Linked DNA regions of Homo sapiens. The protein of the gene in region 3 interacts with the protein of the main gene of each other region in a pairwise test. Each region holds a gene or a part of one and is shown on either strand. Other genes may lie near its edges.

Region 1 (6,249 bases), on a different chromosome or scaffold from region 3:
AATGTGATGTTAAATTACATCTGAAATTTTAAAAATGTATTTAAAAATCCAAATAAAGCTTACAATTTCCTTATTTCCTTTATTTTAATGTGTCAAAAAAACACTTAAAGATATTCTTGTAAATACATATAAGCTGTGTGTCAACATTCAGTACTATGCAAATCATTTTTCAATATGACAAAATGAAAAACTTACACACTTTAGGGTAGCGCTTAATACTTATCTTTGAAATCTATTGCTGATGCTAGGTCTAAAGAGCAATGACTCAACCAGAAAAAATAGTAAAGGCTGCCTTTTCCTTTTTAAAGTGCTTATTAGCTTTATATCCAAAAACAATGGTTTTTACAAATACATAATACTGAAAGGTGCTCAAAAAGTCACCACTTACAGAATTGAACATGTCATTTTCTAACTCTGCACATGTAAACTTGTTTTATCTGCATTAATGAAGATTGCTTCAAATGGCTCTCAATCATATGCTTCAAATCAAGACAGTGCTAAGTTCCAGCAGCATAAACAGTGACAGCAGAACAAACCCCAGCACATTTTCAGTGGATCACAGCAGATCAGAGAAAGTGTAACAGCTTTTGAGTATGTTATACATCCAAGAGCCTTATATTTCACTCCACATAAACAGTAAACATAAAAGAAAAAAGAAACACTTTGTCTCCCTATAGAGCATTTTATAGTATAGGAAGGGATTCAAATTCTCTTTTTAACAAAATTCTTGTTTCTATATAGAGGAGATTTTATATTCTTAATGTTTACAACAAAGCCTATTTCCACCAAAAAAGCAAGAAGAAATTAATAAATGAAATCCTGAACTCTAAAAACCTAAGAAATAAAACTGTGAACAATTCTGAAACGGAGTGTTTTTTCTAAAGGCTAATACAAACATACCAAAATAGAATTTCTGAGCACGAACTATGTGATTTCATTTCAATCGTATCACTTTCATCTGATTGAAATAATTTAGAAACAATAAGGATGATCTTAATCTCACTATTTTCTGCATGAGACTATCGTTCCGATTCATCCCCTCAATACACACCACTGTCCAACAGTCTTACAGTGAGCATCCTCTCAGGTCCCTTTCTGCTCGCTGAACCTTAAGCTGGTTTTACCCCTCCTGTCTCTCTTCTCCAAAATCCTCTATATATCTTAAGAAGAAAATATTCCTTTAAAAAATGACAATTTAAATACAGTGTGATAATGCTACATTTGATTTAAAGTAGTAATAAATTATAAATTGCCAAATAACTTAATGTAATTCACGATGCAAATCCTTGGTATAAAAATAATCCATATTGCCCTGAATATAATAAAGCAATCCAGTGATTTTTAAATTACTTATGAAATAAAGGCAAAAATAAGATGTAAAATACTATTTATAAAAGTCAAGTAAGAAACCAGTTACCATAAATCTTTTTACAAAGATAAATGTAATGTGGCTTACTACTTTTAAAAATTGTCAGGGAGGTTTGCAATCAGTGGTTTCAAAAATGACTCTAGGGAAACTAGAGACTGAATTATATATTATTGTGATGTACAACATATTAACTATATATATAACAATAATACTGCAATGGGGGGTAATTAAGCTACTTCCTAACAAGTACATTTCTTTTTCAAAGTCTTTACTGTAACTGATTAATTTTTAAATGTTAGTTTTCAAAAACTTTTCTACTTGAGATATTTATGTTAGTAAGAAGATACCAGAAGTCTAGAATAGTAATCAAATGCCTATAAAATAAAATAATGATTGTTCTTGCATGTTCTGTTATTGTGACAAATACACATTAAAATAGATAACATTGCTATGCCTGGAAATTAAAAATATCCAAATCTGTTAGAAAGAAGTGGAAAAGGAAAGAAAAATCGAAAATTCTTATTTAAAAATGGATCTGAAGTCCTTGTATTTCTTAAGAGCTTGACTTGTCAAATCACAGTTTATCTTCTTTCTGAAACCAAGTTGTGTCTTCCACCATTCATTCACGTGATATGTCAATTCTCCATTTTGTAGGTCTCAGTTTGAATTTTCCTGAATATTTGCAAAACTGGTACTGGACTTGAGACGTTTGGCTAGATAAATCAAAAGAATTATATTTTAATTTAAATTTAATTATCAAACATGATTATTTACTATTTTTATGTAATCTATAGTATTTATCTATTAATTCTATGTTTGAATCCTAACAGTTCCAGCCTTATAAGAATTAAAACCTAATTAAAACTTTTTTCTACCAACCTTAAAAACACATAACTTTGTTAGAAATTGCACATGACTTTGTTAGAAGCAGTACAAATAAAACAACATCATTTATATCTTCTTGAACATCACAATCTTAAATATGTAATGTACGTGAAATAAATGTACTTAGACAATGAAAGTGCTATAAGGTAGAATAACAAAATTATACATCTAAAAGTCTAAGTTAGAAATCCAAATCTGAATTTCTCTTAAAAGAATTCAGTGAAAACTTCCCCAACCTGATAAAGAGCATGTACAAAGATTCTATAGCAATCATTATGCTTAACTGTGAAAGACTGAATGATTTTTCCCCCTAAGATCTGGAATAAGACGAAAATACCTGGTCTTGCTTGACATCATGCCACTAATTTATCACCAGCGCAACAAGGCAAGAGAAAGAAAAGGAAAGCTATACATATTGGAAAGAAAGAAAGAAAACTGCTTCTATTTTCAGATGAAAAAAAAATCAGTGAAAGAACTCTGTAATGGGAAAAAAAAAAAACAAAAACATTTTAATGACCCTCAAAGAAAAGTGAGTTGTATATTATTATGGAACTCTGTATTGTAAAAAAAAAATTTTAATGATCCTCAAAGAAAAGTGAGTTTTATGTTATATAAACACACAAACACATATGGCTGCTAACAAAATACGTTACCATCAATTCTGATTTGATGCTAATGGGACTGAGTCATTAGGGTTAATAAAACAAATCATGGCTATTTGGCTTGGTAATATGTTTTGTACTTATAGTTAAACATGAATGTTTCTCATGTTCTAGAAATGAAAAACAATCATGCCCATAGTGAGAGTATTTTATACTGAGTAACTAAGAGTCTCCCTACTTCAGAGCTTCACAAAACTTGGGTAGGGGTTATGATTTAGAAGCTCTGCAATGGGACCCTAGTACCTGTACTTTTTTAAAGCTCTGCAGATAATTCTGATGTGTAGCCAAGGATGAGAACCAGTGTTTCTGGTTTCTTTTTTTATTTTATTTTATTTATTTTTTTTGAGACGGACTCTCGGCTTTGTCACCCAGGCTGGAGTGCAATGGCTCGAACTTGGCTCACTGCAAGCTCCGCCTCCTGGGTTCACACCATTCTCCTGCCTCAGCCTCCCAAGTAGCTGGGACTACAGGTGCCCACCACCACGCCCAGCTAATTTTTTTTTTTTTTTTTTTTTTTTGGTATTTTTAGTAGAGACAGGATTTCACCGTGTTAGCCAGGACGGTCTTGATCTCCTGACCTCATGATCCGTCTGCCCCGGCCTCCCAAAGTGCTGGGATTACAGGCGTGAGCCACCGTGCCTGGCCTACCAATGTCTCTGGTTTCTTTTTTTTCTTTTTTTTTTTTGAGACGGAGTCTCACTCTGTCGCCCAGGCTGGAGTGCAGTGGCGCGATCTCAGCTCACTGCAACCTCTGCCTCCTGGGTTCAAGCGATTTTCCTGCCTCAGCCTCCCGAGTAGCTGGGACTACAGGCGTCTGCCACCACGCCCGGCTAATTTTTTTTTTGTATTTTTAGTAGAGATGGGGTTTCACCGTGTTAGCCAGGATGGTCTCAATCTCCTGACCTCATGATCCACCTGCCTCGGCCTCCCAAAGTGCTGGGATTACAGGCGTGAGCCACCGCGCCCGGCCTGTCTCTGGTTTCTATCAACTGTAAGTGGAAAATCACAACATGACTTCCTGGACGAGTGTACTGCTTCAGCTTAAAATAAAGGGAAAACTTAAACTAAAAACATTGGCCTAAACTAAAATCTACTTCTTAAGCCTTCAGTAGATTTGGGAGGCAAACCAAATCAATAGTTTGGGTTTTTGAGAATTACTTTGTTAAAAACTACTAGAAGTGATCTAGCTTCTGACAAAATTCAAATGACTTAATAAACTGGACAAGTTAAATACGAATGAGTACATACACCTACATCTTCCTTGCCTTTATATTCCCTACCTGATAAATCCCCACATCCTTTAAAATTCTAGCCCAGGGATCATCTAACGGTGAATTTCAACACCTCTAATGCAGTTAGCTCCTCCCTTCAGGCAGGGAAGACAAACAAATAAAGTAGAGAATAAATGAAAAAGATGATTTAAATAACCAATTATTTAATTTAAATTAGTTTAAGTGATTAAGTGCCATTAAAGAAAGACGGCACAGAAGAACAAATGGAGAGGTGTATTCTTAGACTGGGGAGTCATAAAAGGTCTCTTTGAGCAAGTAACTTTAGAGCTAAGACCTGGCTTGCAAGAAGCCAGGTAAGTAAAGAGGGAAGGGCCTTGGAAAAGGGGCAGTGTGAATGAGCTTGGTAGTGGAGAAGAACAGAAAGGAACCAGACTGTCCACAGCACCATGAGCAATGAGGAGAATGGATGTGACGAGTTTAGAAAGGTGGCTATGGGCCAGGTCATGTACAGCTTGGAGAGCAGACCCTGGAAAGTAAGTTTGGATTTATTCTAGGTACAATGGGAACACATTAAGCATTCCAAGTTAGTAGAGAAACATGGTGAATTTGTGTTTAAAAAATTATTCTAGCCACTATGTGGCGTATGGATTTTAGTAGATCAAGAAATGGAAGGAGGGATACCAGTTAAGGGGCTCTTGCGTTAGTACAGATAAGAGATGAAGATGGTTTGGGCTAGGGTTTACCAGTGGAGGGAGAGAGACGGACTAAGCAGAACTGGCAGCATACTTGCTAATGAATTAAAAGGGGATGAGAGGGGAATGTGGGAATGGAAAAATAAAAGAAAGAAAATAATTAAGAAATGACTACAAGGTTTGTGGCTTCCATAGCAAATAGTGACACTGGTAGTGACTTTTACTTTGACAGCAAACAAAAAATCCTGATCAGAAGCAGTAAATACTTTCCATAAAGTTAAATAGATTAGCAAGGCAAATAAGATGCTAAACTTTAAAAGTATACCAAGCTCTGAAAAATAGTTTCTCAATGGTGAGGTGCCCACAATATTTTGCTATTATTCTAAGTAAGTGCTTTAAGGACCTGAGCTACTGCATATTTACAGAATGCTGGCAGCCTTCAAAAAACCTTTAATAAATACACCCATGACAAAGACTCTCCCCTCTAGTAGCTAGCATTTTAAGGTGACAAAACATTACAAATTCAGTTCAAACTGATCTACAGGTAACCTTTTTTTAAAAAAATTAGATATATTAGAAGTGAAGTTAGATGAAGTAGTGATCGAAATTTATAGGGAAAAGAATTTTTATATCAGACATTCCTAGACTACAAATAGTATTTGAGAGAAAAGAAAATTAACCTTTTCCCCTAAACAGTTCTCTTTTTTAAAAACTAAAATTATTAAGGCATAAGCCTGTACTTTCATTCTGATAATAAACAAGAAAGCCACGTGACTTAGAAGCCACTCTTCCTTAGCTGGATGGGATCTCTAGTTAGTGCTTCTTTTGCTCTGGCCTATTTCATAGGGAGAAAGAAAGGGAATTAATATGTATTGAGCATATACTATTATATCAAGTAATCTCCTTGGAACTACGATTCCAATTTGTTCACAAACAAACTGTCTGTTATGTCAGCTATAGTTTCTTCCTGCCTGCCACACTTAGGTGGTTCTACCATGACTCCGATGGGTCTAAGAGCTGTCTGTATCTCCCTGCTATTGCCATGTTAGGAGTGCAAAGCCTCTGTTGTTATTCTTCTGTTGTTGCCAACCTTATTCCAGGGGTAATCTAGCTTTCTCAATTTAATCATCTGAAAGACACTGTGTTTTAACTTTTTTTTTTTTTTTTTTTTTTGAGACAGTCTCACTCTGTCTCCCAGGCTGGCGTGCAGTGGTGCGATCTCGGTTCACTGCAACCTCCGCCTCCCAAGTTCAAATGATTCTCCTGCCTCAGCCTCCCGAGTAGCTGGAACTACAGGCATGCGCCATCATGCCCGGCTAATTTTTTGCATTTTTAGTAGAGATGGGGTTTCACCGTGTTAGCCAGGATGGTCTCGATCTCCTGACCTCGTGATCCGCCCACCTCATCCT
Region 2 (5,842 bases), on a different chromosome or scaffold from region 3:
ATGGACCGGCTCAGATCCAGTGGGTGGAAGGAGGTGTCAAGGATAACATCTTTGTTTCTGGCCTGGATAGTGGGGCCCTGGCCACCTCGGTGTGCCCCTTCGTCTCCGGGGTCTCCAGGGGCCTGCTGCTGTCCACTGGGCTCTCAGGACCCAGCTGCATGATGCCACCTAAACTGCAGGGCCCTCCAAGTCCCCAGCACCAGCGGGGCAGCACCGGTAGGGCCTGGACCTCTTTGAGAATATGTTGAAAAGCTGACATCAACCTCGACGCTGTGGATGTTGGGCCTGATCATTCTTTGGGGTGGGTCTGTCCTGGGCACTGCAGGGTGCTAAGCAGCCTCCACCCAGTCCCCAGTGGTGACACCCAAAACTGTGTCCAGACATTGACAGGTGTCTCCAGGAGGGAGACTCGCCTCCATCTGAGAAGCAGAACCAGCCTGACAGTCCACCTCCCGGCTGAAAAGTGCTTGCATGTGCGATTTGCCTTCCGCCTGGGAGTCTGGGGGCACTGGGATGCCATCCTTGCCCCACCCTGGCTTTCAGAGCTCTCTCCTCTCCTCCTCGTGTGCCCATGAGTCCGGCTCACAGGAACGTGGGTCTCACATCAGGTCCTGAGGGAGCAGGTGTGTTTCTGGGCCTGAGGCTGCTCCTTGGTAGTGAGGGTGTCCCCACGAGCCGTGTCTGTGGCGCCTGCAGCTGCCTGCATGTCCATCTGTGTCCACATCTGCCTTTGAGCCTCATCTTCCTGGCCCCACGGTTTTCTCATGCTGTGACCCAAAAGCCAAGCATTCCAGGGTGTTCTGCTGAAATTGAGTTGTGAGCGTGTCTCTCTCCTCGCTCCAGTCTGAAGGAGAAGCGTGGTCGGTAGATAGACGTCTCAGACCTTCGTGTTTTCTTCACGTCTGTCTGTTGGCAGGTCCTTACACTATTGTGGTTGCTTTAGCAACTTAGCTGTTGTCGACTTAATGTGTTTCATGACGTTCTGCAGCAAGGAAGAAGGTCCGAGTTTCCACTCTCAATCAGGCACCTTCGTTCCCCTCCCCCCTCACTTGACTTCCTGTGGGGTGTGTGGTGTCTGCACTTATAGATGAGAATGCTGAGGCCTCAGGAGGGCAAGGGACTCGCCCACGGTCACGGAACCCTAAGTCAGGGGTGGAGAAGGACCCCCTGACGCCAGCCCACCTCCCCTGCCCCTCAGCAGGCCTGGCTCCAGCACAGAGAAGAGCCATTGTTGCTGCTCTGGGGGCCCTAGGAGCCTGGGATGTATCCTGCCTTTGTTTCTAGAGCCTTTGTTTGTTGTATTTCCTCTGTCTCCAGACATCGCAGGCCGGTGGGACCCGGCGCCTGTGCACGCTCACGTAGCGGGGCCTGTTCGGGTCCCTCGTGGGTCCCTTCAGTTCGAGCTCTGTCCTTGCCTCAGCGGCCCGTCACCCATAGGGTGGCAGAGATGGGCCGGGGGAGGGAGTGGGCAGCAGTGCGGACCGAGTCCTGGCGCATGGGGTTTCCCTGGTGCTGGAGCCGGGCGTTTCGGGGGTGTGGGCGGGGCTGGGGTCATATCCCCTGCATGCCCCGCATGCCATGGCTGTACTCACATGGCAAGAGGTGGTGATCGCCAGCTCAGGGAAGGTGGGGGTTCCTTCATCCTGTGGAGAGGGGGCTGAATTGGGGTCCCCTGAGCTGTAGGGTGCAGTGCCTGACAGGCCGTGGGGAGGGCCGAGGGGATGGGGACTGACAGGCCCCGGGCCCATGCCGCCCCCTGGCACGGGTGGATGCCCCGCCTCCCGGGGGTGCCCAGCTGGACTGTGGCACCCCCAAAGGACCCCACATGTCACTGTTCCCCCGCAGGGCTTCCCACGGCACGACATGGAGACCTGTGGTTGCGAGGCTCCCTGGGGCTCGGCTTGGACCGCGATGGGGCTGGGCCCTGGCCTCCTAACGGGGCTGCTGTCTGGGGCGGTAGCTGGGGGGGCGCTCTCCCCCCTGCCCGCGACTCGGAGCACCCCCACCCCTCCCCTGCCGGGCCAGGCCGGGCGGCGTTGTTGGCGGGGGCCCCGGTGGAGGCCCGGCCTGGGCGGCGCCCGCCATGAATGGGCTGTCGCTGAGTGAGCTCTGCTGCCTCTTCTGCTGCCCGCCCTGCCCCGGCCGCATCGCTGCCAAGCTCGCCTTCCTGCCGCCGGAGGCCACCTACTCCCTGGTGCCTGAGCCCGAGCCGGGGCCTGGTGGGGCCGGGGCCGCCCCCTTGGGGACCCTGAGAGCCTCCTCGGGCGCACCCGGGCGCTGGAAGCTGCACCTGACGGAGCGTGCCGACTTCCAGTACAGCCAGCGCGAGCTGGACACCATCGAGGTCTTCCCCACCAAGAGCGCCCGCGGCAACCGCGTCTCCTGCATGTATGTTCGCTGCGTGCCTGGTGCCAGGTGAGCAGCTGTGGCCGCGCCTGGGCTGGGTCACCCTGTTCTTGGGGCTCCCGTTTCTGCCTGCGGTGCTTGGTGTGGTTGGTGGTGCCCCCGAGGGCCCGAGCCTGCCGTGAAGGGCCATCCAGCCAGCAAGGGTGGTATCCCCCGTCAGGCCGGCCTCGTCCCTCTGGCAATTTTCTCTCGCAGACAAGGACACCAGGCTCAGGGAGGCCATCCCCAGCTGGCATGGGTGGGCAGGCTGGGCGACTCCAACAACCCAGCGCCTGGTGGTTGCCTGCTGGGCAAGAGCTGGGGCACAGGGGCTGCCCTGGCCTGCGGGTACATCCACCTTCTCGCCAGGTGGGGTTCTGACCAGATCTGAGTCCAGAGGGCGAGCCTTTACCTTCTGGCTGGGCTAGGTGGGGGCCTGGGGGAACTGGAGGAAGCAGTCCATGGCAGGGCCAGCCTGGCCACCTGCTCCTGGCACCACCTGGGGCAGCTCCCGTGCTGGGAAGCAGACAGGCCTTGCAGCACAGCCTTGGGGCTTGGGCAGGGTGGTGGGCCAGGAGGGGCTGCATGAGTGTGAGCAGAGATTGGCCGCATTTGCTTGTTGGGGGCAGGGGTGGGGTCCAGTTGTGCCCCAACAGTGAGGGCACCATTCTGTGAGGTGAGGGGAGATAGCCCTGCCAGCAGCAGCATGGGCTCCCCTGGGAAGGTCCTGAAAGGTGGGCCTGTGCGCTCCATCCCCGGGGGTCCAGGTTCTTCCAGGAGGAAGGGCAGTGAAGCCTGCAGTATCTGAGCACACACTGCGAGTCTGCCCTGAGAGAGGATGCGACCGATGGTCCCAGTGTCCCGCTTCACAGATGGGAATCCTGAGGCTCCCTGGCTGGCCTCTGCAGCCCAGGCTGCCTGTCCCCCTGCCAGCTGTCCTGTCCTCTCCCCATGGGGAACCCTCGGAGATGGAGCTGTGCTGTCGTAGCCTCCCCTCTCCATTCACTGGCTTCTGGCCCCCTTGGGAGGGGAGTAAATGAGGCACTGGGCATGGCTGGCCACCGGGGTGGGCTGTCACTACGCATCCTCCTGCCCTGCAGCTGGGCGCTGGGAGCGAGGATGTGAACGGCCCTTCTCGGCCTGTCCCAGGTACACGGTCCTCTTCTCGCACGGCAATGCCGTGGACCTGGGCCAGATGAGCAGCTTCTACATTGGCCTGGGCTCCCGCCTCCACTGCAACATCTTCTCCTACGACTACTCCGGCTACGGTGCCAGCTCGGGCAGGCCTTCCGAGAGGAACCTCTATGCCGACATCGACGCCGCCTGGCAGGCCCTGCGCACCAGGTGAGGGCGACCCTGGGGGCAGCTCAGCCTGGGCACACCCAAGAGGGGACCAGGCGGGGGGCCGGGGGGCGGGCTTCCCTGGGAGGAAGGTGGGCGGCCCTGCAGGAGGGGAGCCACAGTGGATGCACAGGGCCAGAGAGCCGGACAGGCGAGCTTGGGTGTGCAGGTGCCGCCTCCACATGGCTGAGGTGTGGCCAGGCGGTCCTCCCACACCCTGGCCTGTGGAGCCAGGTTCCCTGGGAACCCCTGGCCTGAGGATGGGAAGGGGCTGAGCTTGTCACAGGGGTGTGGATGCCACCCGGCGGGAGGGAGTGGGTGGTGGTCTGGGGGTCTGTGCACGTGTGGCTGGGAGCCCATCGGCCGAGGCAGCACTTGGGGCCAAGTGAGGCGAGGCTGCTGCATCCAGGTCCGGAGGACTGGCCCATGAGGCCCTGTGGCTGCGGAGCTTGGCCATCCTGGGGCAGGGCCTACAGGGTAAGGTGCAGACCCGCAGCACACATCCGAGGTCTGGGCCAGCCTCGATTCCAGATCCAGCCCTCCTAGTCATCCACGTCCCCAGCCCTGCGCTTGCCTGGGCCCTTCACCGGTGTTTGAGCACCGCCCGGGCCAGTGCTGCTTTGGACGAGGAGACCCGGGTGGGCCTCTGGTGGCTTTTCCTGCTCACCATCCACTGGGCCTGTCTCGTCCTGGCCCTGCCCAGCCCACTGGTCTGACCTGCTCCCACAGGGACCAGGCACAGCTCTGAGAAGTCAGAGGCCCTAGGGAGGTGGGGTCGTCGTTGCCTTGGTGATATGCAGGCAGTCCCTGCAGTGGGCCTGGGAGCTGGTCCCCTGGCACCACCCTGGCTCTGGGGGCCTCCCAGCAGTGTGGGACGCTGACACCAATCACCACTTCATGCGACTTCCTCGGCCCCTCCTGTCTCTACTGCCTGGGCCACTGGCAGAGTCACACCTGCCATGGCCAGCTCTGAGCTCTGTCTGCTCGGCCATCTGTCCTGCTGCCACTTTGTCCTGCAGGAACCTAGGCCCAGAGCTGTGAGGGGGAGGCCAGAGCGTGCCCAGGGCCTCCACCGGGGATGTGTCCTGTTCGTTTGAGTGGTGACATCCAGGTGGCAGCTCGGGGCTCCTGCCTGTAGCAGGTGGCAGGGCTGGGCTGGCTCAGCACACTACTGACCATGGCTGCCAGGGAGCAGGCCAGGGAGGCCGAGGCAGAGCTGGAGCCACAGGCACCAGCCAGGCAGCATCCTTTGGGGCATGGGTGAGTGGCGAGCTGTGGAGTGCTGCCAGGAGGCTGGGATTCCAGGCCAGGGACGGGGACAGCCCTGCTGGTGGAGATGCCAGGCAGAGGGGACGCACACCTGCCCATGCTCCTGCCTTGCAAGAGGGCGTCTGCCTGGGATCAGAGCCTAGAGCGTGTGGGAGGAGAGTTGTGGGGTCCCGGCATGGGCAGGGTGGCAGGTGGGTCCCGTGTGCTTGGGACTGGGCACGAGGAGGCCTTGTAACTGGTGCTGGATCAGCTGGGTCAGGGGCCGCACACCAATGACCTGGGGGTGAGGGTGCCCCTGGGTGGGAGCTGGTGGTGCTGAGGTGGCCGAGGACTTGTCCACTCCCAAGGGAAGGTGCTGGTGGGAGGGGGTGCCACCTCCGCAGCCACCACCCTCGATGCTGACCTGGGTTGCACTGGCATCTCATTGGGCGTGGGGACTCCGAGAGTCCAAAATTGGGTGGAGACATTTGGGGACACAGCTGCCTGAATTCCTCATGGCCAAGGGGGTGGGCAAGGGCTGCAGGGAGGAATAGTGTCCGCTGTCCTGGCCAGTGCACCAGGAACGGTTTTCTAACCCTGGCAGGAAGGTGTGAAGCATTCAGGATGTGGGGGCCACACAGTTCCCAGTGTGCACCTAGGGGTGACCAGGAGGAGGAGAGGCGCCAGGGCCTCCCTTACCCCCGCCCCAGGGGCACTCCGTAGGCAGGATCCCTGCAGATCCTAGCTAGGAAACGCCAGTGAACGGCAGCGCAGGGAACGGGGCGGGGCCGCTGGCTTCGCCCACCGCCACGGTGTTGGGGGCTGGGGGTGGCCCTCGGGACTGGTGTGGAGCCTGAGCCTGACCCAC
Region 3 (5,715 bases):
GACAGGTAAGAAATATTTAGGAGGTAAAATTGGCAAGGCTGGGTGATTATGTGTGGGAAGAGAAAAGGAGGGAAGAGTCACAGTTAACACCAGATAAGAGCTTAGGTGATTGACTAGGTCACTGGGCTGCAGGCAGGGCCAGGCTTGGGGTATGGAGGCAGTGGGGTCATGAGTCACAACCAAGCAGTGGTGTGTTCCACCCTCCGTGGGATACACCGGTGGAGATGGCCAGCTGGGAGCTGATTCTCAAGTTCAGGAGAAAAGTCTTGATCCCAATTTGGTAGCCATCAGTAGATTGGTAGGTATTTTAAACAAGGGGATATGAGGACCAAGGGAGAACATACAGATTGGCAAGAAAAGGAAACCCAAGTCCATGCCTTAGGGGCCACCACATTTAACGGCCAGGTAATAACAGCAGCGACTAACGTGTAGTAAGTGCTTACTGTATTGTACATGGACTCGCTTTAATCCTCAGCAACACCAGGGATTAGCACCATTATTATCCTCAATTTCACTGATGAGGAAGCAGGCCCAGAAAGGCTGAGTTCCCACTGCCACATGGCCAGTAGAGGAGTCCGAGAGTCTGATTCCAGAACCCAAGCCCTTAGCTGCTGTGCTCTTCTGCCTGGGAAGGAAACGAAGAAGAGAGAGAATATGGAGAACTAGGAGAGCACCTCAGAAGCTGAGGGAAGTGCTGTTTCAAGGAAGGAGCCATCCATGATATCAGGAGCTGAGCAGCCCACTGAGAAGGCTGGGAAAACTGCGCTGTAGACTTGGCAGGGAGAGGCCTCCTTGGAGAAGTTGAGGGCACTGGAGCAGCTCAAGGTGAGAATGGGGAGATGAGGAAATGGAGACAGCAAGTGTGGGCTATTGTGAAAGGTCTGATGAGAAAGGGGGCAACAGGAGGCAGCTGTTACAGTGGAACGCGCGTTTGTTTTTAACCGGGAAATCGAGCATGCTTACGGTGCGGGAAAAAGCCAAGGTGAACTCAGTGATACAGGAGGGTGGGGAGAAACTGCTGGAACAAAGCTCTAAGTAAGAGTCTTTCATTTACCACTGTTCACCACCGCCCCTCGAGACACTCCCATGCATTTGCTGCCATATTTCCATATTCCCCAACTCTTCTTACTTTTATTGACAAGGTGAATCCTAAATCTCCTTTGGGGCTGTCAGTTCTGTCTATCCTTGCAATGATTTACCCTCAGCTATCTTTTCATGCATAATTCTCCAGGCAATCTTATTCCCCTATGTGCTGAAAAACCCCAAAATCAGTACGCCAGCCTAGACTCACCCACCCAGATCCCTCCATCCAACTGATTCCAACATGTCCTTTCATGTGTGTCTTCCCTCGTTCTCAGCATGTCGATTCCTTTGGGGTCACTCAGTTATGAATACCATCTCATCCAGTGCCCTCTCTGCCTCCAACACATCCATTCTTCTTGTTCTCTGGATTTTGACTTTGGTGCCATCTCCACCAGAATCTTTCCATAACCCTTCGTGACTCCCACAGCGCTGTTCTTCCCCTGCTGTGGTTCTTACTATATCAGAGTTGCCACTGACATGTCTGTCTGCCTTTACTGAATGTAAACTACTAGAGGGCAGGGTTTATGTCTTATTTGCAATCACATCCTTTTTTTTTTTTTTAGTAAGAAATGAGATTGGAAAACTTGGAAGCACATGTAAGGGATTGACACCTCAAAAAGGAGGAGAGCACATTGTTCTCTGGGACTGGACTGAGGGAGATGAGAATAGACGCTGATCTATATATATTTATAGGTTGCACGGGAAGTTGAGGGGACTTACGGACACAATTTGCATAGTAGAGTAGGAGGTAAAATGGTTTCCTGAGAATGAAGGAGAGGGGCTTGGGTTTGGGGCTTGAGTTGAGTCATGAAGATACAGGCAGGCTATGGAGGGGCCAGGGAGGGAGAAGGACCCAGAGGAGAACCATTCCCCTCGAGGGCAGGAGCACGGTGCCGCCTCCTGCAAAGTAGCGTCTTTCCCACTACTCAGAGCGTCCCAGATTTTGAGTGTGTTTCCTATTCTATGTAGAGATGGATTTCTTCAGGATGGTCTAGGTCTACCAACTGGTAGTTTTACCTGTGAGAAGTTATTCTTTTTATCTATGATAAAAATAGTGGGATCTAAGGACAGAATCCTAGTCTGGGAGCTAAAAGATAGGCTGCACGTATCCCTACTTTCTTAATCTTCTATTTCCCAAATACGTACATATGGAAAAATAAAGATTGAGATAAAATTCTTGTGCTTTATTTCTTTAAAGAATGAAAATGCCCATATTTCTTTCAGTAATAAAAATGGAAATATGCTTATTTGACAGTTTTGTTGTGAACATGACCAAGTTATGAATTTAAAAATTCATTCTTTAGGTTGGCAAATTCTGATAATAACAGTAACTCTTTTCAACAAAAGAATTTTCTAAGCACTGCTGCTGTTACCAGACACTTGAGACTGATCCACTTCAGAGCACAGTGCTTTCCATTAACCATGTAGACATCCACACGCACACATATGTCTCCATACATACATACATACATACTGTAAGATCAAGTAGAATGCTATTTTTACATGTAGTGGTCACATCTTTTATGAACTGTGAATTTGGGTCCTGCAATGGCACTGGTAAGTGACGTATTCAAACCGAGCTTGCTGGACAGAAGATGTCGTTGAGAAACACCTGAATGTCTTTTCTTTGAGGGGAGAGTAATCAGTTACCAAACTCATGCAAAATAAAAGTGGTTCCCTTTGCTCTGGTGGATGTACCTGCTCCGGGCAGCAGGGAGCCTTCTGTGTAGCCTTGGCCACTGACAACATGCTACTGTTATTGTAAATGCAAATACGCTATCTTTCTACAACAGCCATATCCCTTTATTTTTTTTTTTCAAAAGTATCACTAAAGGTGGCTGCAGTTTACATGGTGAATATATAGCAGTCTGTTGAAGGAATCATCTGTTATTAGAATAGCCTGAGTATTACTCCAGCAGAAGATGCTACAACCTCTAAATTCCCTGTGCTAGTTGTAGCCCATGAATTCTTTTATTATTTTATTAATAATAAATATATTTGAAAAATCCTATGCTTCAATAGATTTCTCCGATAAGGACTGAAGCAAGTCCTTATAGACAGCAGAGTTCATGAATCGAGGATATGAGTCTCTGTGCATCAGGGTGTAAATCTGAAGTTGAGCATCATCGAATATGTGTTGGGATGGCTCCACCATGTTTCTGTTGATCACTTCTCTCACCCGGGAGTCTAAGCTCACCTGTCGACAGAAACGAGTAGGAGCTGTATTAGAGACTTCAGTTGTATCTCTATCCCAAACTCCTAGAGCTTGTGGGGATTTTTGTTGTTGTTTTTGTTTTTTGTTTTTGGTTTTTTTGTTGTTTGTTTTGTTTTGAGACAGAGTCTTACTCTGTCACCCAGGCTGGAGTGCAGTGGCGCGATCTCAGCTCAGTGCAACCTCCGCCTCCTGGGTTCAAGCAATTCTCCTACCTCAGCCTCCCGAGTAGCTGGGATTACAGGCACCCACCACCACACCCGGCTAACTTTTTTAGTAGAGACGGGGTTTCTCCGTGTTGGTTGGTTTCGAACTCCTGACCTCAGGTTATCCGCCCGCCTCGGCCTCTCTAGCTGCTGGGATTACAGGCATGAGCCACTGTGCCCGGCCTTGTTGTTTTTTAAATATCCCAAACCAAACAAGATCATCCAAAAAATCCAAACTGCCAAAGAGAAACCAAAAGCATAATCAACGCAGTTCTCAAATGTCAGTGGCATCAGCAGGCTCCAGAGGGCTTGTGAGAGCGGTTCCTGGGCCCCACCCCAGACTCAGTAGGTGTAGGGGCCCCTGATGCTTGTTATTTCCCACAAGTTCTAAGTGATGCTGGCAGGGCTCACACTGCTGCTTTGAAGAAAACAGGCAGCACAGACTGCCCCTTGCTCATTTCCTTGTAACGTGGGGGCTGACACCTGGAGGCCCAGGCTTCCCCTGCTGGCCCACAGTGGCAGGGCTCTGGGGATGAGTGCTGGCCTGCCCGGAGGGTTGGGCACAGGGGTGAAGTGGAAGTTGACTCAAAACCCTGGAAGGTTCCAATCACAGGGCCTGAGGGCAGACAATGCCTGTGTTTAAATTCCAGCCCTGCCTGGGTATGGTGGCTCACGCCTGTAATCCCAGCGCTGTGGAGTTCGAAACCAGCCTGGCCAACATGGCAAAACCCCATCTCTACTAAAAATAAAAAATACTAGCTGGGCATGGTGGCAGGTGCCTGTAATCCCAGCTACTCGGGAGGCCGAGGCAGGAGAATCGCTTGAACCTGGGAAGCAGAGGTTGCAGTGAGCCGAGACCATGCCACTGCACTCCAGCCTGGGCAACAGAGCGAGACTCCATCTCAAAAACAAAACAAAACAAAATCCATCCCTGTCACTGTATAGCTGTGGGGCCTCAGGCAAGGTAAACTCTGTGTCCTAGTGAGCTCTTCCCCTGAAGTGGGGATGATGATGATGGTAATGTCTTAGGTTTTTTGTGATTTAATGACAAAGTGCTTGGATTTCACTAAGCCCATAGGAGATGTTGATTGCTCTGATGTTTGGCTCTTCCTAGACAAGGTGATCTGCCTGCTTCGGCCTCCCATAGTGCTGGGATTACAGGCGTGAGCCACTGTGCCCGGCCTGTTTTTGGTTGTATAATACTTTAAAAGATTGATGAAAAACCTTGCCTTAAAAAAAATCATGACAAAATAAAAATATGTGGAAGCCATAAATTAAAGGACAAAAATTATCTTGCTCCTTATTAATTCAAAATGAAAATAACTTTTTGGACTCAGTATTCAAACATGTCAACTGAATATTACCAATTTAACAACGCAAACTTAAGAAAGCAAAACGTAACGACGCAAAATTAAGTAAGCCAACGACCCCACCACCTGGTCTGCCTACACCAGACATATGGGAGTCATTTGAGACGGTGGGGTTTGCCTCAAATCCGACTCTTCCTCTCTAGCGTCTTCAGCTGGCCTAGCTAGGCCCTCACCATGTCCCTTTGGACTCCTGAATTAGTTTTCTAACGTCTTCTGCCCCTGGTCTTCTCCAAATTCACTCTGCAGCCCTACTGGTCTTTCAAAAATCAAAATTTGATGATATAAACAGGCTAAAATCCAAGGGCTTCCCAAGATAAAAATCCAGACACTTCGCCATGATGCCCAAACCTCTCCATGCTCTCCGACTACCCCTTCTCTAAGTCTCCTCCTGCTGCCTGCCCCCAGCCCTAATAGTTTGGTAAGCACCCTCCCTTTCTGGCACAATCTGTGTATACTTGCAGTGATCACACAACTTCATGCTCTTCCCCTGGGCTCGCCTGGTCCTGTCTCCTGGGATGTCCCCATCCTGCTGTGTTTGTGGAAATTTCCTTTTCACTATCCTTGGTCCATCTGTAGCCTCCTTGAGTATTTTTCTCATTCTCGCCCACCCCTTTGTGGATGGCTCACCCCCGAGCCCCAGTGAGTGCTGAGAGTGTGGCCAGGGGTCCTGGTCTGTCCGCCCACATCTCCAGGAGCTCCATGACAGGAGAGGCCCTGCTTCTTCAACTTGACATTCCTGTCGGCACATAGTAGGAAATAACTAATAGTTTTATAATTAGAGCTACAAGGCACCCAATTTGAGAACAATCTGACCTCCTAAATTTTATTTTATTATTATTATTTT
Region 4 (6,816 bases), on a different chromosome or scaffold from region 3:
TCTGTGTGAGGCACCGTGCTGGCCCCCGTGGGGGTGGGAGAAGTGGGGGGTAATGGGGGTGGAGGAGAAAGTGGAGGGATGAGCAGAAAGCACTAAAGGAGCTACCATCCTCGGAGTCCCAGGTCCTCACTTTACAAGCCACATGGGCTTCTCAGGAGCCTCAGTCTCCATACCTGGAAAATGGGAACACCACCACCTGGCTCAGTGGGGTCCGAGCCAAGCGGTGCTGTTCTCATTGTTCAGGTGTGGAGTGGCATGGGATAAAGGGAAGCACATGAGGTGCACAGTGCAGGCTATGACCAGTGTTCTCTGTCTTCTTCCCCACCCCTGGAAACCTATGGTTGTGGAGGGGGTGCCAATCTGAGGGGTAGGGGTGACAGCAGGCATCATGGCAGAGGCAGCATTTGAGGGGGACCTAAAACCTAATGTGGAGGTTGAGTAGAAAGTATTGAGAAGAAACCCAGGCAAGAACAAAGACAGGGACAAGGGATGCAGAGTGTGTGTGTGTGTGTGTGTCTATCTGCATGCATGCATGTGTGTATGCATGCGTGCATAAGCATGTGTGTATGTGTGTTTGTATGTGAATGTATGTGTGGGTATGTGAGTGTGCATGAGCATGCATGTGTGTGTATGAGTGTCTGTGTGTGTGAATGTATGCATGGGTGGGTGTGCGTGCATGTGTGTGTCAGTGTGTGTGCAATGTGTGTGTATGTGTATATGCATGTGGATCTGTGTGTGTTCGAGTGGATGCATGTGACTATGAGTGTGTGTGGCCGGGTGACTGCTCTGGACCCCTCCAGGGCACTGTGGGGAGGGGTGAGGAATAAGCACGAGGATGCCTGGAGAGCCAGGCACTGGCCTGCCCTCCCTATACCCCAAGGCGTCCTGAAATCTGGCAGGGATGGCAAGCAGGAGGGACCCCCAAAGGTCATCTGAATCCCCAGGCTCTGTGGCAGCCAGGGCTGGGCCTGCCCAGACCACAAGGCCTGGGATTAGGAGATTAAATCCAGGGTGAGGAGGCTTTAGAGAGGCAGCAGCCCCTCCTACTCATTCCGGCAACCCCAGCCTCTGAGTCCCACATCCAAGTCCCATATCCACACATCCGGATCAATCTCTACAATGCACTAGGCCTGCAGGAGGCCAAAGCTGGCAGGATGGGCTGGCAAGGAGCAGGAGAGGTCAGGAGGCTCAGTCTCCACCTGCTGCTGACCTTGACTGTGCCCTCTGCCCCACAGCACCCCCAACTGCAGCACGTGGGCCAAGCCCAGCCAGCTGTTCCCTGGGTTCTTGAGGCCCTGGGGGTGGGGGCACTGGGGTGGCGAGAGGCCAGCCAGGCTGAGGGTGGGGATCCCAGTGGGGCTCAGGAGCTAAAGAGCAAGCTGGCTTCGTCAGGTGGGGCCACTGTGCCCCTGCCTCTGCCCAGGTGCCATGCCAAAGGACTGGGATGCAAAGCTCTGGGATCCCAAACCCTCCTGTAGCAGGGATGGGCCTATGGCCGGAGGCCACCACCTAAGGGGCAGAAGCCGGCAAGGACGCAGGCCCAACGCTGCCTGGCTGTGTCCCTGGGTACCCTGGCCACCCATGGACAGGTTCGGGGCAGGGTGTGGCCCAGCCCCCCATGGTTCTCAGAGACGCTCCTGGGCATGGAGTGGGTGATGGGCAGTGGGAGGTGACACCTTGAGTCCCTTTGGCCACCCATATTGTGGGTGGTGAGCCACATCCTTTGGGCCTAAGAACACTGAATGTGGCAATGACCTAGAGAGGTCCCCAGACTCTGCAGGCAGACAACCACGTGCTCATCCTACCAATCACAGCCACCCAGAGACCCAGGCCCACCACTCTCCACCCGTGGTAGCGGCTCAGGCCCCTCCCAGCTCACTGATAGATGTGCACGGATGGTCTCAGGCCTGACGGGATTGGCCAGCTAGGCATGTGCAGGGCTCAGTAAATCCCAATGACCTAATGCTGGTAGCCCCTCCATAGACCCCAATCTGGTAGGACCAGGGCTCTGTGGGAACGTCTCCCTTCCCGTCCCCACCACACCCAGTTCACCTGCTTTGGCCGGCCCGGCTGAGTGGCCTGAAGAGATGCCCTCAGTCTCCTCCAGGGCCTCCTCCTCCAGCTCACATCTCCCCCTCCACCCTTCACAAATCCCACAGGAGGACTGCCCTACCCTACTCCCAAAGGGCATGGTGGGCCCAAGGTCAGCAGTCATGACATCAGTGAGGACTGCGGGGCACAGGCTGGGCGGCCGGGCAGTGACCCCAGTTTTAATCCTGATCCAGCCAAGCATCATCCCTGGGCTTTGGGCAGAACTCCAGGCTCCACCTGTTTGTGGCTGGCCGGCTGGAGCCCCAGATGGGGCAGTCTGTGGGACATTCCAGTGGGGAAGGGGGAAAGGAGGCACCCAGGGGGGCAGCACCCGGCTGGGAGCAGGGCTGGCACACAGCAGACATCTTGCAGGCCCTCACCACAGGGACCTCCCTGGGCCCGGCCCGGGACCCCTGCCTTGACAACTGATTCCAGCCTCTGTCCACCCTGCGGACCTGCCCGGGGAGGACACCTGCAGGGCCTCAGATCCATCTGCAGCCGGAGTGAAGCTGTTCATCCGGGCCCTGCCTTGGACCCAGCACCCTCCCGAGACTTCACCCCGGGTAAAGGCTGCCCTCCTCCGATCCCACGCTGGGCCCCTCAGCCAGCGGCCTTACCGCATCCCTCCTCATCCCTCCGGTCCAGAGGGTTCCTGGGTCTTGACTCCAACCACCCCATCAACCAAACAAGGAACCCCTCTAAATAGACGGTGTGTGTTCAGTGCAAGGGCAGACCTGAGCCCTGGCCCTGGCCCATCCCACACCCTGCACCGCAAGCTCCACATCTGCTCCACTCCTGACTGCCCCACTCCTGACTGCCCCACTCCACAGCCTGGCTAAGGCTGGTGGCCAACCACACCTGCAAAATGGCCGCCGCAGGTGCAGCCCCAACCCCCACGTGGACCCCAGAGCTTCCCTTCAAACCCTCTGCTGCCTTCTCACACCACGAGGGTGCTGGCATGGCTTCCCTGGCAAAGGCCCCGCCAGCCTGAGTGCGACCTGGTGTCCCGCAGAGCCGAGCACGGTGTCGCGCTGTGCGTCCCCAGGGTGAGGCCAGTGCCAGCCCTGCGAGGCAGGGGCCTCTCCGCACCGCCTCCTCTCCGCAGCCGCAAGATCCAATCCGCTTGCCCTGGCAGGCCTTTAATTCCAGCAATGCAGGCACCCCTTGGAAAGGGCTGACGCTTGGGGAAGGGGTCCTCCAGTCTCTGGGGGAAAGTCCCTATTCCCGGGGACGTGGGCGCGCATCGGGTCCGCGCCGGGCGACGTCGCGCTCGCGCCCAGCAGGCCCCATGACTTGGCATTCCCTCCTTCCCCTCCCCCTCCCGCCCCTGCGGCCGGCAGGGCCCCCCCAACCCCACCTACCGGCGCCCAGCGCCCCGCTCCTGCGGACCCTCCCTCCCGGCGGGGATGCTGCCCCGGCCCTTCCCAGCGAGAGGGCAGCGCGGCTGGTTTGGGGGAAGTCAGCGTGAGGAGCGGCTTAAAGCGGGAGTGCGAAGGTCTTCGCGGCCACTGTTCCTTCGTGTCATCCGAGCCCGGGCGCCGGGGGCGCGCCGCCAGCCTAGACCCTGCGGCCCCGCAGCCCCTCCCTCGCCGCCGGGCCACACCTGTTACAGGGGCGCTGGCTGCTGAGACGCAGGCAGTGCTCGCCGGCGGCCCCTCCCAGGTGCTGGGTCTTTCTGGAAGGGAGCTGGGGTCTCTGGCGTGGGAGGGGGTGATGGGCAGGCCGGCCGTGCAACGAAGCGGGTGGCCAGGCCCCAACGCCGCAGCCCCCGCCCCGCCCGCCTGTTTTGCTCCCGGCTCCAGCATCCGCCCTCCCCCACCCCGGGAACCGGAGCAGCTGCCCGCGCCCGGCCGCCCTGCGCGCTCTCCCCTCGGGCCGAGGCGCTGCAGCCGCGCACCCTCCCAGGTGCGGCGTCAGCGTCCTCAGCCCCGCTCACCATCCCTCCCCTCCCCCGCCGTCTGGGCGCAGCCCCTCCCGCAGCCCCGCCGGTGGCTCCTCTCCAGGGAAGCGGAATAGCCGGGGAAGGGCGGGGGTATCCCGATCCCGCCGGCCGGGCGAGCCCTCCCGAGGGCGACCCCCGCCCGCCTAAGCCGAGGGTCCCGCTGCAGCCGAGATCGCGGCAAAGGGACCTTTTCCAGCGGCACCTGAAGGGCGGACACCCCTGAATTTCCCCCATTGTTCTCTGCGGAGATGGAGGAAGGTCTGGAAGTGAAGGGGCCTCGCAGTGCCTGCGCTTTGGGCGGCAACAAGGGCGCCGGGCCGGAGCTCCCCGCCCTGGGCGCAGTGGGTGCAGGTGCGGGCTGCGGGCGCGGGCTGCCGGGCGCAGGTGCGGGGCGAGGGGCGCGGGCGCGGGAGGCCGGGCGGGCGGCGGCCTTACCTCTCCGGCGTCACTGGCGGCGGCCCCGCATGGGCACTGGCATGGGCGCGGGCTCTCGAGCCCGGAGCTGCTGCCGCTCGCCGGCTGCTCTGCGCTGTGACGGCGCCGCCGCGTGACGGGCTGCGCGCCCCCGGCCCGGACCGCCCCGCGCCCCTCCCGAGGCGCTGGTTGGCTGCGCGCGGCGTCCGAGCTCCAGTCGCCAGCTGGTTTGTCGCGCGGGGAGAGGGACGGGCGACGCGGCCGCCGCGGGGATGGGGCTGGGGACGGAGGGGGCCGGGGCCGGGCTGTGACGTCACCGCTGACACCGCGGCGGGCCCCGCGGAGGGTGGGGGACCGACACCCGGCTCGGACGCAGCGTCCCCTCCCCCGGCGTGCCCCTGAGACCTCGCGGGGGAGGGACCCGGCGGCGCCCCGTCCCGAAGCCCCGCGTGCACCTGAACTTGCCCGCGGACCCCTCGCCGGGCCGTCCCCCACCCTGGCCCCTTTCGAGTGAAATCGTAAAACGTCCACCTGCCCCCGCTCTGAGCCAGCGACAGACGCATCGTGGGGGGCGGGCGGGGCTGGGGAGGGAGGGCTCCTTGCGCCAGGGATGCTGGCTCCGGGTGTAACAGGTGCGCGGTGAAATCGCATCTTGTGTCGGGGCCGGGGCGCCGGGGGAAGAGCAGCAGTGACCCAGGCCCTCCCCGCCGGATGATGCAACCCGCCCGCGGACCCGCCGCCTCGCCTCTACCGCGGCTCGTGGGGACCCCCCGCCCTCCTCTCGCCCCACCTCTCCAGGCCCCCATTGTCCTCACCCCAGCCTGTCCAGTTTAACTTCCTTGGACCCCCAAGTCACACGCCGCTCGGGGGCCACCCCGGCAAACCCCAGCCTGCGTCACCCGCCCCCAGCCGCCTTCCTAGTTCCAGGGGCTGACTGGTATCTCTGTGCGCGCCACCGTCCTCCCTCCACCGTCCCAGGGCTGGGCAACTTCGACAAAGCCTCTGGGCAGCTCGCCCATGGGAACCTCCCCGCACTGCGGTGCGGGGGTGCACGGATTTCGGGCCACCCTGAACCCCGGGGCTGGGTCCCCTCCAGCCCAGCCCCTGCCATCGAGCCCCTGCCATGGGCATCCTGGCGTCGCCTGGCTAAGCCTCCCTGGCGCCCAGCAGGGGCCTGCGCTGCCCTAGCGGCCTCGCCGTTAACCATTTCATCCACACTCCTGGGAGAGCCGGCTTCACCTCAGTCCCGACAGCTGCGTGCGAGCGCCTTGCAGGTGGCTGGGGGAGATTCACATCCACTTCTGCAAGACACGGGCCCCCCACTCCCAGCCCCAGCCCCGCCGAAACCAGCTAGACAGCTCCTCCTCCTTCACTATTTCCTGGAACCGCCGGCATGAAAGAGAAATCAATTGTTCTTCCTAACCCTGGCAGAAACAATAAAACCATCTGGGCTTCTGGGGCTGGGGTCTTTATCACCTCCGTTTTCCTCATGCTTTTTAATCTGGCAAGTTCTCTATTTCTCGAGGCAATAGACATTTTTCTAGGAATTAATCTATTTCACGTTAATATTTAAATGACTAGCATATCTTTTTTTCTTTATATTCTGGCTTTTTATGGTTTTGTTTGTTTGTTTTGACAGGGTCTTGCTCTGTCTCCCAGGTTGGAGTACAGTGGTGCCATCTTGGCTCACTGCAGCCTCAGCCTCCCCAGCTCAAGCAATCCTCCCACCTCAGCCTCCCTAGTAGCTGGAACTACAAGTGTGTGCCACCACGCCCAGCTAATTTTAGCATTTTTTGTAGAGACAGGATTTTGCCCTGTTGCACAGGCTGGTCTCAAACTCCTGAGGTCAAGCCATCCACCCACCTCGGCATCCCAAAGTGCTGGGATTACTGGCATGCATTTGGCCTGTATTTTGTTTTTTGCATTTTTCTCTTTTAATATTTTTAAATATTTTCAGAGCTCCAACTTTTAGTTCTGTTAAACGTCTTTCCCGTTATTTCATTTGCTTCTGTCTTTCTGTATTATTTCCTTCCTTTGTGGTTCTTTGGATTTGATCTGTTCCTCTGTCTTGAACCAAATGCTTAGCTCCTTTTTAAGCCTTCTGATTTTCCAATAGATCTACTGTATTAAAAGCTACAAAATTCCTTCTACAGAACTGTCTTGGCTGAGTCTCACAAATTTGGACATAAAATGTTTTCATTATCATTCATATCTAATATTTTCTACTGTTCCTGATGATCTCCTTTTAAACCCAGGGTTATTTAATAATGTTATTTACTTTTCAATAGTGTTTCTTTAATTATAACCTTTTGTTACCAGGTTCTAATTTAATTGCATTGTTGTCAGAGAACAAGTCTGTATTCAGTCAA
Region 5 (5,779 bases), on a different chromosome or scaffold from region 3:
GGGCTCTGCAGACACCCCACAGCAGTTCTGCGTCTCGGAAAACGCGGCGCCTTCATCAGGACCGCACGAAGGAGGGGGTGGGGAGGCGGGTCCAGCCTCGCGAGGAGCCGGCCGGGGTCTGGGGGGCCGTGGCAGAGGGGAGTCCCGCTTTCTGTCTAAGCCTCCCTGTGCCAAGTAGGCCCGAACCCCACCTTTGGAACCTGCTTTCTAGAAAGGACAGCACCCCAGGGGGCCCGTGCCGTGGGCATGGCAGCCTCTCAGGTCGTGGGGAGGGGAGGGGACACTTTGGGGAAGCCACAGGGGGTCTCTAGGTATCTCTGGGATGCTTTCTGGTGGGGTGTTTCCTCTAATCAAAACCATCGTGGGCCAGATTCTGGGGAGCTGGCAGCCCCCCCACACAAACAGACCTTGGTGTCCTGGATCAGCTTCAGGTACCTGATGGGGTGAGAGGATCGGTGCAGAGGCTCAGAGGCCAGGCCAGTTTGGTGACCCATCAGCTGAATTTCAGACTCCGGGTCCCCAGCCCCTTCAGAGACACTGGGACCGCTTTGGGGCTGCCCTGAAGGCTCCAGAGGGTGGAGGGGAAGGGCATGGTGCTTTTGCTAACACTCTCACGTCCCCTGGGAGCAGGTGGGTGGCCACCCTGAGGCCACTGCACGGGGGAAGGGACAGAGAGAGGTGGGGTGGGGGAGGCGGAGGGGAAGCTGCAACCAGCTCCCGTGGGGCAGGGGGTCGGCGGGGGTTTGTCCCTGCTGTGGGCACCTGGAGCGACACCTGTGGGGGCAGCTCCTCATCTGACCTGCACTAACACTAATCTTTAGTCAGCTCCAGGGACTCACCCACCCTGAAAGACCCCATCCTCAACCCTATCAATAGCTCTAGTTGCATTTCCGGCAAAATCTGCAAGAGCTCGGTTCTTTGTCTAACCCTCCAGGGAAACAAACAGTTCACCTCCCCTGGAATGTCCTCATCCCCTTCCCGGGGTCCCAACACCCTCCCCAGCCCCCACCCTACTCCATCTCAGGCTGGCTGCCTCTGACCCTAAAAGTCCAATTCTGTTTGTCTGCCGGGTTGGGGCACTCATCTGTGGCCCAGCCAGGCAGAAAGACAGAGAACCGGGGGAAACTCCCGTCTACATGAATCATGGGGCAGAACCTGGGGATTTATCCAACAACCAAGAGGGCGCCTGGACTTTGAAGAAAGGCAGCACTTGCCCAGAGGAGACTGTTTCAGGAGCTAGACCCCACCCTGCTCTTGGGGTGGGTGGTGGCATTTCCCAGGGGGCACCTGGGCTCTTGCCTAGTGGTCTGGGGTCCCTGGTACTTTATTTCTAAAGTTGTCCACATCAGCAGGAGGTGAGTGGAATAGACAGTGGAGGCCAGGTACCTGGAAACTGCTCCAGGGGCTGTGGTGGGAGGGTGACCCAGGTGCCACCCACCTGAGATGTGGTCATGGTTGGTTTTGTCTGAGCTGGTTGTTTGCTTGCAGAGAGGGAACCCAAAGGTCACACCAGAAAGCAGGCTTCCAGTGCAGTGAAGGCGAGGGCTGGAAAGCCGCACCCACCCCCGCACCCACCCCTGCACTTGTGTAGTCCTCACGTGTCCTCTACATCCTGGGCCAGAGGGAGAGGCCCCTTCAGCAGCGGCTCTCCCAACAAAGAGGAAGGCCCCCACCAAGAGCACGCACTCAGAACCCCAGAGTTCTAGGAGGCAGAATGGATGGCACCAAGAGGTCAGCGGTCTAGAGTGGGTCTCCCAGAGCCCGCCCCGTGGCAGCACCTCATGTGACCACTGGCGCCTTTGCCCAGGTTCTCCACACTGGAAAAGTGGAGAATGGCTAGATGGTGCCCCCTCCAATAATCCACAAACCTGGGTGACACTTATTATCCTTCAGTCTTTATTTTAAATAAGGCCCCTGTCCTTTACCCTCCCAAAGTACTTTTAGACATTTTCCTTCTGCCCAGAATCCTCTGCCCGGTCCCCTGTAGCTAGTGTCCAGACACTGGTCACAGACCTCCACTGAGCCCAGTTAGAGCGCTGACCTCCCATCTCAGGACTTCTTGGCCCTTGCCCATTGCCATACTCTACTGTCAGATTTTAAAACTGCTAGACCATGTGCCAATTCACATTGACTTGTAGCCACTAGGACCCTGTGTCTTTTTCTATTGTGCTTGTTCATGGCCAGGAATCAACGAACTTTGGACAGACAATCAGTAGACTTTGGGTGTGGCCTTGGTGAAGGCTTCCCACTTTGGTGACTTGCATGTGCCCCTCTTTGTTGAGGGGGTTTTGAAGCAGCTTCTGCGTCATTGGGAGCTGGCTGCTGCGCCCAGCCTGAGGCCCTGGACCCCTTTTGCACCATCCTAATTTCAACATCCAGATGTCAATTCAGAAAATTATTATATCATTCTAATGACTCAAAACATAAAATCCCCTCTTTTGTCTCATGTTGAAGAGCTGATGACATCGGACCTATCAGGTCAGACTTATTTTCCTAGTCAGAGACTGAATGGCATATTTTCAAAGCACTTCGTCTAAATTGCATGGCACACACCCCAGGAGCCCAAAGATCTGGTTGTTCTCTTGAGATGCAGAGAGGAGGCCCACAGGTGGCGGAGGGGTGAAGGAGGAGGAGCCACCACTTCCGAAGCATCAGAATGTCAAAATCTAAGTTTTCCACGAGGTCAGCAGCAGGTGTCTCCTGGTCTGGAGAGGGCATGGAAGTGGCCACAGGTCTGGACTTCTCTGGGTGGATGTGAGGGAGGGTGATTGAACTGGAGGAGGGGGCTGGCTTGAGACCTTCCTGTTCTATGTTGGGGGGGATACTGAGGGTCCGTCTCACTGGGACGAAGAGGGGGCACAGATGCAGGTATGCCCAGGTACCTGAGTCCCAGCCAAAGCGGCAAAGCCAGACCTCCCGGGATTCCTTGAGTTTGGACAAAGGGTGTCCCGACGACGATAAAGAGCCAGGAGCAGAGAGCCCTGCATCTTGCCTGGGGCCCCTTGTATCTCTGGCTCATGGCCTGTCCTGGGCACGGGGAGGAAGGGAGACACCCGTAATAATAACAGAGACCGCACTGGACTATGGGGGATCACAATGGGTTTCAGTTTGATTGAGAGAAAATAAGGTAAGGGACACGTGCTCGCCTGAGTCTCTGGAGTAAGAGTCACGCCTTGGAGAAGGAGGGCAGCCAAAGGCCACGCAGAAATTGGGGGTTCAAGGTTTGCCCAGCCGGCCCCAAAGGTGTGGGGGTCCACATGGCCTCACCCAGGGGCCAGTGGGGTGGCTTTGCTCATTTGAGGGTGTGCAGGGTACATATGTGTCTGCCCCGGGAATCCAAGTAGCCCCAGTGCGCTCCTGCCTTGCTTCCCTAGAGCGAGCCCACGGTACCATAGTCCTCGTGGGATGAATGCATGAATGATGTGGAAGGAGCCAGAACAGGGCTGCAGACAGGATGCTCTCTCATAGAAGGACCCCAGAGAACTTCCCCTCTGGAGCCTGTGCGGCTGGTTGAGTGTAAACGCTGAGTCATGCTCGCTGCCCAGCTGTGTGGCAAGGGCACTCCCTAGGCACTGAGCAGCCACCGCCAGCCCTGAGGGCTGCGGGACAACAGAGAGCCGGGCCTGCCCGAGGCACGGCCCCTGAAAAGTGTGGCCCGCCAGGTGGCACCTATGTTCTCTTGCCCGGCGTGGGTGACTACACAGTTGTCATTTACGGGGGAAGTAGGGCACAGCAGAGGTGAACATGAGGATGATGCTGCGTCTGGGCTGTATCCAGGGAACCAGCTGCCGGACAAATTGGAAGGGACCTTCTTGGCAGGACAGGTCCAGTTGGTGGCCTGAGGTGGGGTTGTGGTGGGCCTTGTCCCCCTGCAGGGCTGACCCGTGCAGGTGGGATCATCCTTCCTGAGGAGCTGCCCTGCCCAGTCCCGTTGCCTTGGAGGCGGTGACATCAGGGGCCCCTGAGCCACCAGGTTCCTCCATCTTCATGTGGCCACCACGGCTGTTGCAGAGTCCACGGTAAGAGCCAGGACGTGGCTTCCAGGCAGGATGGGGAAGCACCTCCCACTCCCACATGGACAAAGATTTCTTTAAACGGAGCCACCAGCCATGCCTGGTAGTGGGTGCCCTCCCTAGGCAGGCAGTGCTGGCTCTGCTCTTTCCTGGGGGAAGCCCACTGCTCCTCCTGGGGCCTAGTCCGTGGGACCTGCCCAGCCAGCCTTGGGAGGGGCACCCCTGGGCATGTGGAGAGGAGGTGATGAGGCGCTCAGATGTCGAGGCCAAGGCCAGGTAGGTGGCAGGTGAGACAGGCCCTTCAGACATGAGACCCGAGTGATGTAGATAAGAGGTATGTTCCCCTCCAGCCCCCGCCCCCAGGCAAAAGGGGAAAAGACACACAGAGAACAACAGAAAACAGTTGGAAACCCCAAAGGGCGCTTGATGAAGAGCTGGAGCTCCCCGCCCCCCGTGCTCCGGGAGGACCAGGAGACCTGCTCCATGGGCCAAACCGCCTTTGCCCATCCCTCCCCTGACCCCTGCTGCACGGTTCCAAGGGCTTGGTAGGGCAGCCTGAATTTTCCCTAACTCCCACTCCTAGGAAGGTCAAATTCACCTTGTTTGCCTCCTTAAAAATTCACAAATGCAGGACTGAGGCTTTTCCTGAAACCAGAGCCCCGGCAGCCAAGGCTCAATAAAATACTGTTTGTGTTTCCAGGCACTGGGGTGGGAGCGAGGCTCCCAGTTGCTCAGAGTTAACCGGCCCTTTCCCGAGTGAGACCCCGCGAGCACTCGTCAATTCTCCCATCACCCTCCATCGCCGCCTGCTGGGGGGGCCTGAGGTCCGGAGCTGCTCTTCCTCCTGGCAGCCCAGCCTGCAGGCCTAGTGCTGTCCAACCACAGCCCAGAGGGCAAGGCCTCCCAAAGTGGGCGCTTGCTGAGCCCCTGGCCAGCCTCCCAGGACCCTCAGTCCCCACAGCCCCCATCCAGCTCTCTTTTACACCTTCCCCTCCCCCATCTCAGAACATGGGAGAAGCCGGGCACACTGGCGTCTGCAGGCTGCCCTTGGGCTGCCACGGGGCCCTGTTTGCCCAGCACAGAGCCTGCCGTGCTTTGACCCAGCAAGTCCCACCGCACCTTCCAGAGGCACTGTACAGCGTGCATCTGTTGTCAGTACAGTTTTATTTGCTGTGGAATCCATGAGAGCCGGAAGCATCGTTGGGGCCGTGGCTAGCAGAGCTCATGGTGACCAGTCCTGGGCCTGACCAATGGGTGATTACATTTAAAAACCAAAACAAAACAAAACAAAATACCAAGAACAGATCACTTGCCATGGACATCAGTAATCTATTGGTAATGGTGGAAATTTCATGAAAATTTCCCCTAAACCATAACAAAAACTGTCCTCCTTACCCCAAAAGTGCTGGAGGAAAGATGGTTGCATGACTTGACCTCTCTTTGAACTTGAAATGCTACCTTCCTACCCGGAAATGCGACACACTATACTTAAAAGGCCAGATGGCTGCAGGCTGTTTGCACCCCTGGCTCTGCCCAGGGACACCCCTCTCCTGGTTCTAATGCTCAGACCCAGGAGGCAGAGTCCGCAGCCCGAGGGAGCTTCAAGGCCGAGGGGTAGGACCTGCAGGGCCCACACCACCCTTCTGATGGAGAGCTTTGCACATGCATTCACACACACATGCCTGGCGGGATCGCAGAGGATGGGTCTCGTGGCAGGAGTGGGCAGAATGGGGTGCATTTTACAGAAGAGTCACAGAGAGGCTCGC

What was found.
Region 1: the proteins of RGS20 (region 3) and OSTM1 interact in a two-hybrid assay, tested with the Homo sapiens proteins (one study listed by BioGRID).
Region 2: the proteins of RGS20 (region 3) and ABHD17A interact in a two-hybrid assay, tested with the Homo sapiens proteins (one large-scale study listed by BioGRID and IntAct).
Region 4: the proteins of RGS20 (region 3) and KIF1A interact in a two-hybrid assay, tested with the Homo sapiens proteins (one large-scale study listed by BioGRID and IntAct).
Region 5: the proteins of RGS20 (region 3) and TBC1D16 interact in a two-hybrid assay, tested with the Homo sapiens proteins (one large-scale study listed by BioGRID).

Annotation. Positions count from the first base shown.
Region 1 is NC_000006.12:108,042,759-108,049,007, forward strand, and holds part of OSTM1 (osteopetrosis-associated transmembrane protein 1 precursor), read right to left. Parts: intron 2,083-6,249; coding exon 2,027-2,082; 3' UTR 1-2,026. UniProt on the Homo sapiens protein: Required for osteoclast and melanocyte maturation and function.
Region 2 is NC_000019.10:1,877,808-1,883,649, reverse strand, and holds part of ABHD17A (alpha/beta hydrolase domain-containing protein 17A), read left to right. Parts: intron 1-1,083; exon of another isoform or gene 1,084-1,845; 5' UTR 1,846-2,083; coding exon 2,084-2,415; intron 2,416-2,601; coding exon of another isoform or gene 2,602-2,754; intron 2,755-3,534; coding exon 3,535-3,729; intron 3,730-3,791; exon of another isoform or gene 3,792-4,745; coding exon of another isoform or gene 4,746-4,767; exon of another isoform or gene 4,768-4,903; coding exon of another isoform or gene 4,904-4,986; exon of another isoform or gene 4,987-5,842. UniProt on the Homo sapiens protein: Hydrolyzes fatty acids from S-acylated cysteine residues in proteins. Has depalmitoylating activity towards NRAS. Has depalmitoylating activity towards DLG4/PSD95. May have depalmitoylating activity towards MAP6.
Region 3 is NC_000008.11:53,955,835-53,961,549, reverse strand, and holds the end of RGS20 (regulator of G-protein signaling 20), read right to left. Parts: intron 3,281-5,715; coding exon 3,092-3,280; 3' UTR 2,247-3,091; downstream 1-2,246. UniProt on the Homo sapiens protein: Inhibits signal transduction by increasing the GTPase activity of G protein alpha subunits thereby driving them into their inactive GDP-bound form.
Region 4 is NC_000002.12:240,815,654-240,822,469, forward strand, and holds the start of KIF1A (kinesin-like protein KIF1A), read right to left. Parts: upstream 4,567-6,816; 5' UTR 4,469-4,566; intron 3,625-4,468; exon of another isoform or gene 3,453-3,624; intron 1-3,452.
Region 5 is NC_000017.11:79,930,470-79,936,248, forward strand, and holds the end of TBC1D16 (TBC1 domain family member 16), read right to left. Parts: 3' UTR 1,874-5,779; downstream 1-1,873. UniProt on the Homo sapiens protein: May act as a GTPase-activating protein for Rab family protein(s).